Linked DNA regions of Homo sapiens: region 2 is linked to region 1. The links come from fine-mapping of genetic effects on gene expression. A gene starts in region 1. The other region holds a variant in brackets. All regions are shown on one strand. Distances are between the middles of the regions. Region 1 holds the start of ANKRD30BL (ankyrin repeat domain 30B like). Region 2 holds the start of MIR663B (microRNA 663b).

Evidence for each region. PIP is the estimated chance that this variant, and not a neighbour inherited with it, causes the effect. A credible set is the group of variants that fine-mapping cannot tell apart.
Region 2: its variant is the best candidate, but not a certain one, in a credible set for the expression of ANKRD30BL in putamen (GTEx, PIP 0.80).

What each region holds. Positions count from the first base shown.
Region 1 is chr2:132,160,036-132,164,415 of GRCh38, forward strand. It overlaps ANKRD30BL (ankyrin repeat domain 30B like), which reads right to left and starts at 1,917. Exons shown (of 6, transcript NM_001358416.1): 1 at 1,453-1,917. The coding sequence starts at 1,670. RefSeq lists an enhancer at 2,210-2,710.
Region 2 is chr2:132,254,208-132,258,587 of GRCh38, forward strand. It overlaps MIR663B (microRNA 663b), which reads right to left and starts at 2,873; the gene lies at 2,759-2,873. It also overlaps a transcript of ANKRD30BL not described here, the pseudogene LOC107985804 and the pseudogene LOC110467533. RefSeq lists a silencer at 889-1,183. The variant G/A (reference allele first, on the strand shown) is at 2,351.

The DNA of each region.
Region 1 (4,380 bases):
TGTTTCTGGATTTTCTACTCTGTTGTATTCATTTACCTGTCTTTTCAGCTGTTATCAAATAATTTGTGATTTATTTATTTATTTTTGAGACAGAGTCTCACTGTCTCCCAGGCTAGAGTGCAGTGATGGGATCTCAGCTCACTGCAACCTCCGCCTCCCAGTTTCAAGCGATTCTCCCTCCTCAGCCTCCCGAGTAGATGGGCTTACAGGCTCCCGACATCCTGCCTGGCTAATTTTTGTATTTTTGTAGATTTGAGGTTTCACTATATTGGCCAGGCTAGTCTTGAAATCCTGACCTCAGGTGATCCACCCGCCTTGGCCGCCCGAAGTGCTGGGACTACAGGCATGAGCCACGACGCCTGGCCCTTTTTTTTTTTTTTTTTCAAATTTTATTTATTTATTTATTTATTATTATTATTTTGAGACGGAGTCTTGCTCTGTCACCCAGGCTGGAGTGCAGTGGTGCGATCTCGGCTCACTCCAAGCTCTGCCTTCCAGGTTCACACCATTCTCCTGACTCAGCCTCCCAAGTATCTGGGACTACAGGCGCCCACCACCACGCCCGGCTAATTTTTTGTATTTTTAGTAGAGACCGTGTTAGCCAGGATGGTCTCGATCTCCTGACCTCATGATCCACCCACCTCGGCCTCCCAAAGTGCTGGGATTACAGGCATGATCCACCGCGCCTGGCCATGGCCCATTTTGTGCAAATTAATAGCACATTTTGAAATCTAGAAGGGCAAGACTTTTCTACTCCGTTACAAAATGTTTTAAATGTCACCACAATAGTAAAAGACAGCGTGTGTAATTTTAAAAATGTTAAAACGTTGATAACTTTATTTGGTTTATGTAAAACTGATAAAGAACTTGCATCTTCAGAAAAATGAGTCTTCTTAAATTCGAAAACATAAACCATCTTCCCACCTCAAAGTTACCTTCTAAGGTCCCTCAGCAAAGAATATATTTACATAGACATTCATTGATATTGAAATGGATACTGGACTTTATCCAAAAAATTTTTAGCCAAGAAGTTAATATATTATGGGAATTATTTCATTATGCACCATTTCATAATGTATCTAACATCTTTTAAAACCTGTACATTAAAAGTAAAACCCTGTATGTACTTAATTTTATAAGTTAAATCACTTTAAAATTCTCTACACAGTGCTCTGTGAGAGGAAGTGGGAGTGAAGGAGAAAGCAGCTAAAGTTTGGGGTTGATTTTAAGGTGGCCTGTGCCCTCCGCCCTGCAGGGCGCCCTCATCCAAGGCCTGGGGGACCTGCCCGGGAAGAAGGCCAAGACCTCGGGGCCCAGGACGGCCGCCCCGCTGCCCGCCACTCCTCCACCTGCTCCCCTCGTCCCCAGGACCCCCAGGCCCCACTCTGAAGGGGCGATCCTCCCACAGCCTCCTCCTCCTCCTGCAGCCCCGGCTCAGGCAGGGCCTGGTACCTCTTCTTCGCATCTCTTATGTTCAGGTCCATTGTCGTCTTCTTCATCATCCTCTCCAGCTTCCAGGCTTGGCCCCGGGAGGCAGCTTTGTGGATCTTCCTGAGATCCCCATGGTGAATCACGTAAGAGTCGTTGTTGGTGTAGACCAGCTGACTGAAGGGGCTCGGGCGCTCTGGGCCCGTCTGGCCCTTGACAGGGGCGGCAGAGAGCCTCTCCATGGCTGCAGCCACCTGCTAGAGAGAGCCCGTGCCTCCCGCTGCTCGCCCTTCCCCAGTCCCCGCCGCTCGCCCTCGCCCTTCTTCAGTCCCTGCATCCGCCCTGACAAGACTAGAAATCTCAGTCGGGCCAAGCTTTTGGACACTCCAACCTCTCCCGGGAGAAAATGGCTGCGCAAAACCGTTAGGCAGCTGAGCAGAACCGTTAGGCACCTGAGCAGAACCTTTAGGCAGCTGAGCAGAACCGTTAGGCAACAGCGCATGCGCAACTCAGCAGACCTGGGAGACACGCGAGGCAGGAAACCGCCCTGGCTGCGCTTCGCCCAGCACGGCGTGCAGGTGGCACCTGCTACTGAGGCGCTATCGGGCTGGCGGGGCTCCCTGGAGCGGAACGTGGGGGGCTCCCTGCCACATGGCCTGCTTGACAGAGCTGCCCCTGTCCCCTCCTCAACCTGAGATCCAGGAGCTGGGCCCTGGCGCTGGGCATCGTGCAGCCTCCAGGGTGGCGCTGAGCGTCGGTTCCCGGCCTCTTGCAGCCAGGGACCCATCCCTGACTTAGGCGCCTGGAGGCTTCTGGCCCAAGTATCCGCGCGGCTGGTGGCGCTGGCAGGGTCAGGGTTGCAGCCTCTCCTGCCACGTGCCATGTTCAGGTGGCAGCTGCAGCTGAGCCCATGGTAGAGGCTACAGGGTTGGGCCCAGACCGCTGAGCATCGCCGAGTACATCGCCCTTCCACCCGGGGCTCTGCTCTTCCTCGGCTCGCGCTGGCAGCGCAGGCTTGCCACCACTGGGCCCTGTACAGCTGCGGCGATGAGGCTTTGCGGCAGGTTCCCACGATCCTGCAACTGAGGTCCCACTGCCTGACTTAGGCGCAGTGGCGGTGTCCGACCCTGGGGTTCGCCTGCTGGTGGCGCGGACAGGTTCGGGGGTTGCCACCGCTGCTGCCACCTTCAAATGCCAGCTGCAGCTGAGCCCACGGTAGAGGCTGCAGGGCTGGGCCCGACGGCCTGAGGGTAGCCGTGTGGCACACGCCCTCCCACTCTAGGCCCTGCTCTTCCTTGGCTCGCGCCCTGAGCGCTGGTTTGCAGGCTCTGGGCACTGTGCAGTCGCCAGGATGCGGCTGAGCAGCAGGTTCAGCGCCGCCTGGGCCCAGAGGGGAAGAGGGGAGTTTGGGGTTGCTTGGCCGTATTTGCCTGTGCGCCAAGTGCAGGTAGCGGCTACAGTTCTGACAGGCACGGATGGCGGGTCCCGTTTAGAGGGCTTCAAGGTTCCTGAGAGCGCCCGCTGCCAGGCCTCAGGATCCCTTCCTCGTTGACCAGCATCTGGAGTATGGCAGTGGCGCTGGGTCATCTGCAGCCCTCCTGGATGGGGCTGAGCTGCAGTTCTCACCCTTGGACTGAGAGGGAAACTCGGCTGAGTGGAGCAGATGGAGAAACAGTTAAATTGAACTTATCTATAAAGACTTCCAGGCTGGGTGCAGGACCTCATGCCTGTACTTACAGCACTTTGGGAGACCGAGATAGGAGGATCACTTGATCCCAGGAGTTTGAGACCAGCTTAGACAACACAGGGAAACTTTATCTCTATAAAAATAAAACCAATCAGCCAGGCATGGTGGTGCATGCCTGTGGCCCCAGCTACTTGGGAGATTGATTGTGGCAGGATCACTTGGGCCTGGGAGTTCGTGGGTACAGTAAACTGATTGTGCCACAAACAAGGAATGAGAGGTCCTGTTGCTCCCCATCCTTGACAGCATTTGACCTTTTCAGTCTTCTGGATTTTGGTTATTGTTTGATTGTTTGTGCCGCTGCACTCCAAGCCTGGGCAACAGAGACTCTCTCTCAAAATAAATAAATGAAAGACTTCTAGTCACTATATCTTATCTATGTCGAATTGTTTACACATCTAGCTTGAAGAATTAAAACCCACAGAGCCCTCTGATTATGTGATAGGGACCATGTGATTAAAGTGGGTGACCATGTTCTTGCCTCCAGGGGGCCCAAGTCAAGGGATGGGTCCCCAGCTGCAGGAGGGTGGGAATGGATGCTCAGCACCACCCCGGAGGCTACACAATGCCCAGCCCCAGGGCCCAACTCCTGGATCCTGGATCATGAACAAAAACCCAAGAATTGAAGACTTGAGTGTTAGATATGCTCATTTCTGCTGGGATATCATTGCTTCTAGACCGTCTTAGTTTACAGAGCAAAGAAATAAATGTGTGTATACAAAGCTGTGTATACACATAACTATAAATATTTCTAAATGTAATGTGTGTAAGTGTTAGTTCATACTGATGTCTACGACTCAATTCTTTTATCACATGATCATTCCGGCCTTCTCCCCTTGCTTACATGTAACCTCCCACTTTAATAATGAGAAACCAGGCTCCTGTCATTTGTCATCCGTTTGCTTAACTGTCTAGTTCCAATATACATTCATTCTCTATCAATATCAGAATCGCTATCCCATTTCCTGTAGGAGACAGCTATACCAACCAGATCACATGAGTTGTTTGCAGTTTCTCTTCCTTTCAGTCTTCATGCATTTTCTTTGTTTCTTTTTCTTTTTCTTTTTTTTTTTTTTTTTTTTTTTTAAGATGGAGTTCTGCTCTTCTTGCCTTCTTGCCCAGGCTGAGGCTGGAGTGCAGTGGCGTGATCTCGGCTCACTGCAACCTCTACTTCCCAGGTTCAAGCGATTCTCCTGCCTCAGCCTCCT
Region 2 (4,380 bases), 94 kb after region 1:
GAGTTCTCTGGCTCTCGGGGCAGGTGGGGCCATGCAACGAACAAAGGGCACGACTCCGCCCATGCATGCGCCACAGGGGAACACGGTCAGCCAAGGAGGAAGGACATGGCGGCGTCTCCGTGGCTTCGCTCTTCTCTGTTAATGATCCCTCCGCAGGTTCACCTACCGAAACTTTGTTACGACTTTTACTTCCTCTAGATAGTCAAGTTCGACTGTCTTCTCAGCGTTCCGCCAGGGCAGTGGGCTGACCCAGCGGGCTGATCCGAGGGCCTCACTAAACCATCCAATCAGGAGTAGCGACTGCAGTGTGTACAAAGGGCAGGGACTTCATGCAAGCTTATGACCAGCACTTACTGGGAATTCCTCATTCATGGGGAAAAATTGCAATCCCTGATCACCATCGCCAATGAGGTTCAACAGGTTACCCACATCTGCCACATAGGGTAGGCACACGCTGAGCCAGTCAGTGTAGCGCGCGTGCAGCCCTGGACATTTAAGGGCATCACAGACCTGTTATTGCTCAATCTCAGGTGGCTGAACGCCACTTGTCCCTCTAAGAAGTTGGGGGATGCCGACCGCTCCAGGGTCACATAACTAGTTGGCATGCCAGAGTCTCGTTCGTTATTGGAATTAGCCAGACAAATCACTCCAGCAACTAAGGCCATGCACCACCACCCGTGGAATCGAGAAAGAGCTATCAATCTGTCAATCCTGTCCGTGTCCAGGCTGGGTGAGTTTTCCCATGTTGAGTCAAATTAAGCTGCAGGCTCCACTCCTGGTGGTGCCCTTCTGTCAATTCCTTTAAGTTTCAGCTTTGCAACCATACTCCCCTCGGAACCCAAAAACCCAAAGACTGGTTTCTTGGAAGCTGCCCAGCGGGTCATGGGAATAACACCGCCACATCGCCAGTTGGCATCGTTTATGGTCGGAATTACAACGGTATCTGATCGTCTTCGAACCTCCGACTTTCGTTCTTGATTAATGAAAACATTCTTGGCAAATGCTTTCGCTCTGGTCTAAACTGCCAGTCCAAGAATTTCACCTCTAGCGGTGCAATATGAATGCCCCCGGCCGTCCCTCTTAATCATGGCCTCAGTTCCGAAAACCAACAAAATAGAACTGTGGTCCTATTCCATTATTCCAAGCTGCAGTATCCAGGCGGCTTGGGCCTGCTTTGAACACTCTAATTTTTTCAAAGTAAGTGCTTCGGGCCACAGGACACTCAGCTAAGAGCATCCAGGGGGCACCGAGAGGCAAGAAGCAGGGACGGGCTGTGGCTCGCTAGCCCACCCGCTCCCAAGATTCAACTACGAGCTTTTTAACTGCAACAACTTTAATATACGCTATTGGAGCTGGAATTACCACGGCTGCTGGCACCAGACTTGCCCTCCAATTGATCCTCATTAAAAGATTTAAAGTGCACTCATTCCAATTACAGGGCCTAGAAAGAGTCCTGTATTGTTATTTTTCGTCACTACCTCCCCGTGTCAGGAGTGGGTAATTTGAGTGTCTGCTGCCTTCCTTGAATGTGGTAGCCATTTCTCAGGCTCCTTCTCCAGAATTGAACCCTGATTCCCTGTCACCCGTGGTCACCATGATAGGCACAGCGACTACCATAGAAAGTTGATAGGGCAGACATTCGAATGGGTCATCGCTGCCACGGGGGGCGTGCGATTGGCCCGAGGTTATCCAGAAGCACCAAAGCTGGCGGCACCCGACCCCCCGGCCGGGGACGGAGAGGGGCTGACTGGGTTGGTTTTGATCTGATAAATGCACGCATCTTCCCTGTGAAGGGGGTCAGTGCCCTTCAGCATGTAATAGCTCTAGAATTACCACAGTTTTCCAAGTAGGAGAGGAGCCAGCGACCAAAAGAACCATAACTGATTTAATGAGCCATTCGCAGTTTTACTGTACCAGCCCTGCGTACTTAGACATGTATGGCTTAATCTTTGAGACAAGCATATGGTTCTGATAGGATCAACCAGGTAGGTAGAAAGCGGCCTCTGGGACTCGCGAGGATGAGCCCGGCGTCCCAGTTGCGAGATTGGGCGCGGCAGGGCGGGCGATGGGGCGTGGGGGAGGGAGGGAGCAGCTTGGGGTGGTGGGAGGGGGGTGGTGGGGCGGCGAACCGGACATCCCATCCACCCACAGGACACAAAACCCCCCGACGGGCTCACCACTCCCGACCCTTCGTGCCCATGTGCGAGGAGGCCGACCGCCCGACCCGTGTGCGGCAGCCGCGAGGGACCGGCGGCCACTCATGCGCGGAGGGCGCGGGGCGGCCCCGACGTTTGGGCAGCGAAGGAGAGGCGGACCGCGGTGCCTGGGGTCTCACCGCCAGTGGCCTCGG[G/A]GCATGAAGGCGGCCCCTCGCGGCACCTGGAGCGGCCGACTGGCCTTCGGCGGGCCTGCGGCTTCCCCACCGCCGCCACTGTCGCGGCCAGCCCCCTGAACCCTCTTCCCTGCACACACTGCTGGCCGACCCCAAACCCTCCGGGTGTCCACCAGGCCCACTCGGGGTGCCGCCGACCTGGTCCCGAAGGCGCACGCCCGGGGACACGGACAACGGGCCAACCAGTGGCTAGCGGCGGCGCCCCACCAGGCAGAGCCGGGTTTGGTCCCAGACGGGGCCACCACAGCCTAAGGCGGTGAGCCGCTCGGGGAGAGAGGATCCGCGGGCAGGGTGGGGGGCACAGACAGGCAAGGCCAGGGACCGCGAGGGCAAGGGCACCTGGGAGCCCGCAGAGGGGCGGCTCGGGGAGAAACCTCAGGCACGGCCGGGCCACCAGGAAAACACGGCCACGGGATCCCACCGCCACAGACAGGAGGGAGGTACCGCAGCGACCCGCCTAGGATGCCGGACGGCCCTCGGCACCACCGAGACCCGCCTCATGAGCCCCAGGTCCCGCCATCAGGACCCCGAGGTGACCTCAGCCACAAACCTAACGCCAGGGCCACGTTGCTCGTTTCTCATCCATCCTCCAACCCGGTCAAGCTCCAGGAGACCGGCATGCCCCCCACTTGGGACGCTTCCCAGGGCCAGGCGGCCCAACCCCGTGCCACGCAAACACGGTCGTCGGCACCGGTCGCTGCTCTGCAGGGGAGCGGGCAGAGAGCCGGCTCACAGCGGAACGGGTCACAAGCCGGACTGAACGCCAGGCACAGCCACCGCTCACGCAGCCTCCCAACCGCTAGGACGCCGGCCCGGCCCGGCGGGATTCTCCCCTGACTCGGAAGGGGAAGGCGCGGGCCACACAGTAGGCGACGAGCTTCCCTGGGTCCCCACCGCGGAGGCTGGCGGAACCCTTGCTTTCCCCCACTCACCTCATCAAGGGGGAAGTGGAGGAGGGTCCTCTGCAAGCCAGTCGCCACGGCAGCGCTACCATAACGCAAAGAGAGGCGGCAGGCCGGGGGATCCGGTACCCCAAAGGCACACCTCTCAGATCGCTAGAGAAGGCTTTCTCACCGAGGGTGGGTCACACTCCCCACACGCCAGTCGCCCCTCGTCGGGCCCGCAGAGGCGCTCAGGGACGCCTGGGGAAGGGAGGGGGCCTGCGGTACCAGGAAAAATCTGCGTGCGGCAACCTTGAGCCTTCGCGGTCTGGGCAGGGGGCCTGGCCGCTGCGCGTGCGCGCAATCCCCGAAGGGCCCCCTAGTCCACCAGCCTCCTTTCTCCCAGGCAAAGCACCTCCAAGTAAACCCACACACAACCTGTCGGAGGCAGAACGGTAGCCCCTCGGCGGCCGGCCGGCGCACGCGTCATCTGCCCCAGCCCACCGCAATAGCTCACACGGCCCGTGCGCAGCCGCCAGAGGGGAGCACGGGACCTGCGCTCGCCAGATCAGGCGGCACCCTTCCCCGCGTGGGAGGGGCGCGTCTCACTCAACCGCCTCGACCCCCACACCAACGAGCTCCCTCAGGACCCACTGGTGGACATCGCGGCGGTGACCGGAGGAGGGGGCGCTGGGGGTGGGAACCACACACCACCACTCGACCTCGGGCACCTGAGGGATAAGCTGGGGGGTGAAGGGGAGGAGCCGGGCGTGGTAGGCTCACGCCTGTCATCCCCGCACTTTGGGAGGCGAGGGAAGGTGGATCCCTCGATCCAGGCCTTGGCAACATGGTGAAACCTCGTCTCTAAAAAAATACAAAAACTAACTGTTTTCATAAACTGGACTCAAAGTTAATAAATAGATAAGTAGGCCGGGAGCGGTGGCTTACTCCTGTAATCCCAGCACTTTGGGAGGCCGAGGCGGGCGGATCACGACGGTCAGGAGATCGAGACCATCCTGGCTACCACAGTGAAACCCCGTCTCTACTCAAAATACCAAAAATTAGCCAGGCGCCGTGGCGGGTGCCAGTAGTCCCCGCTACTTGGGAGGC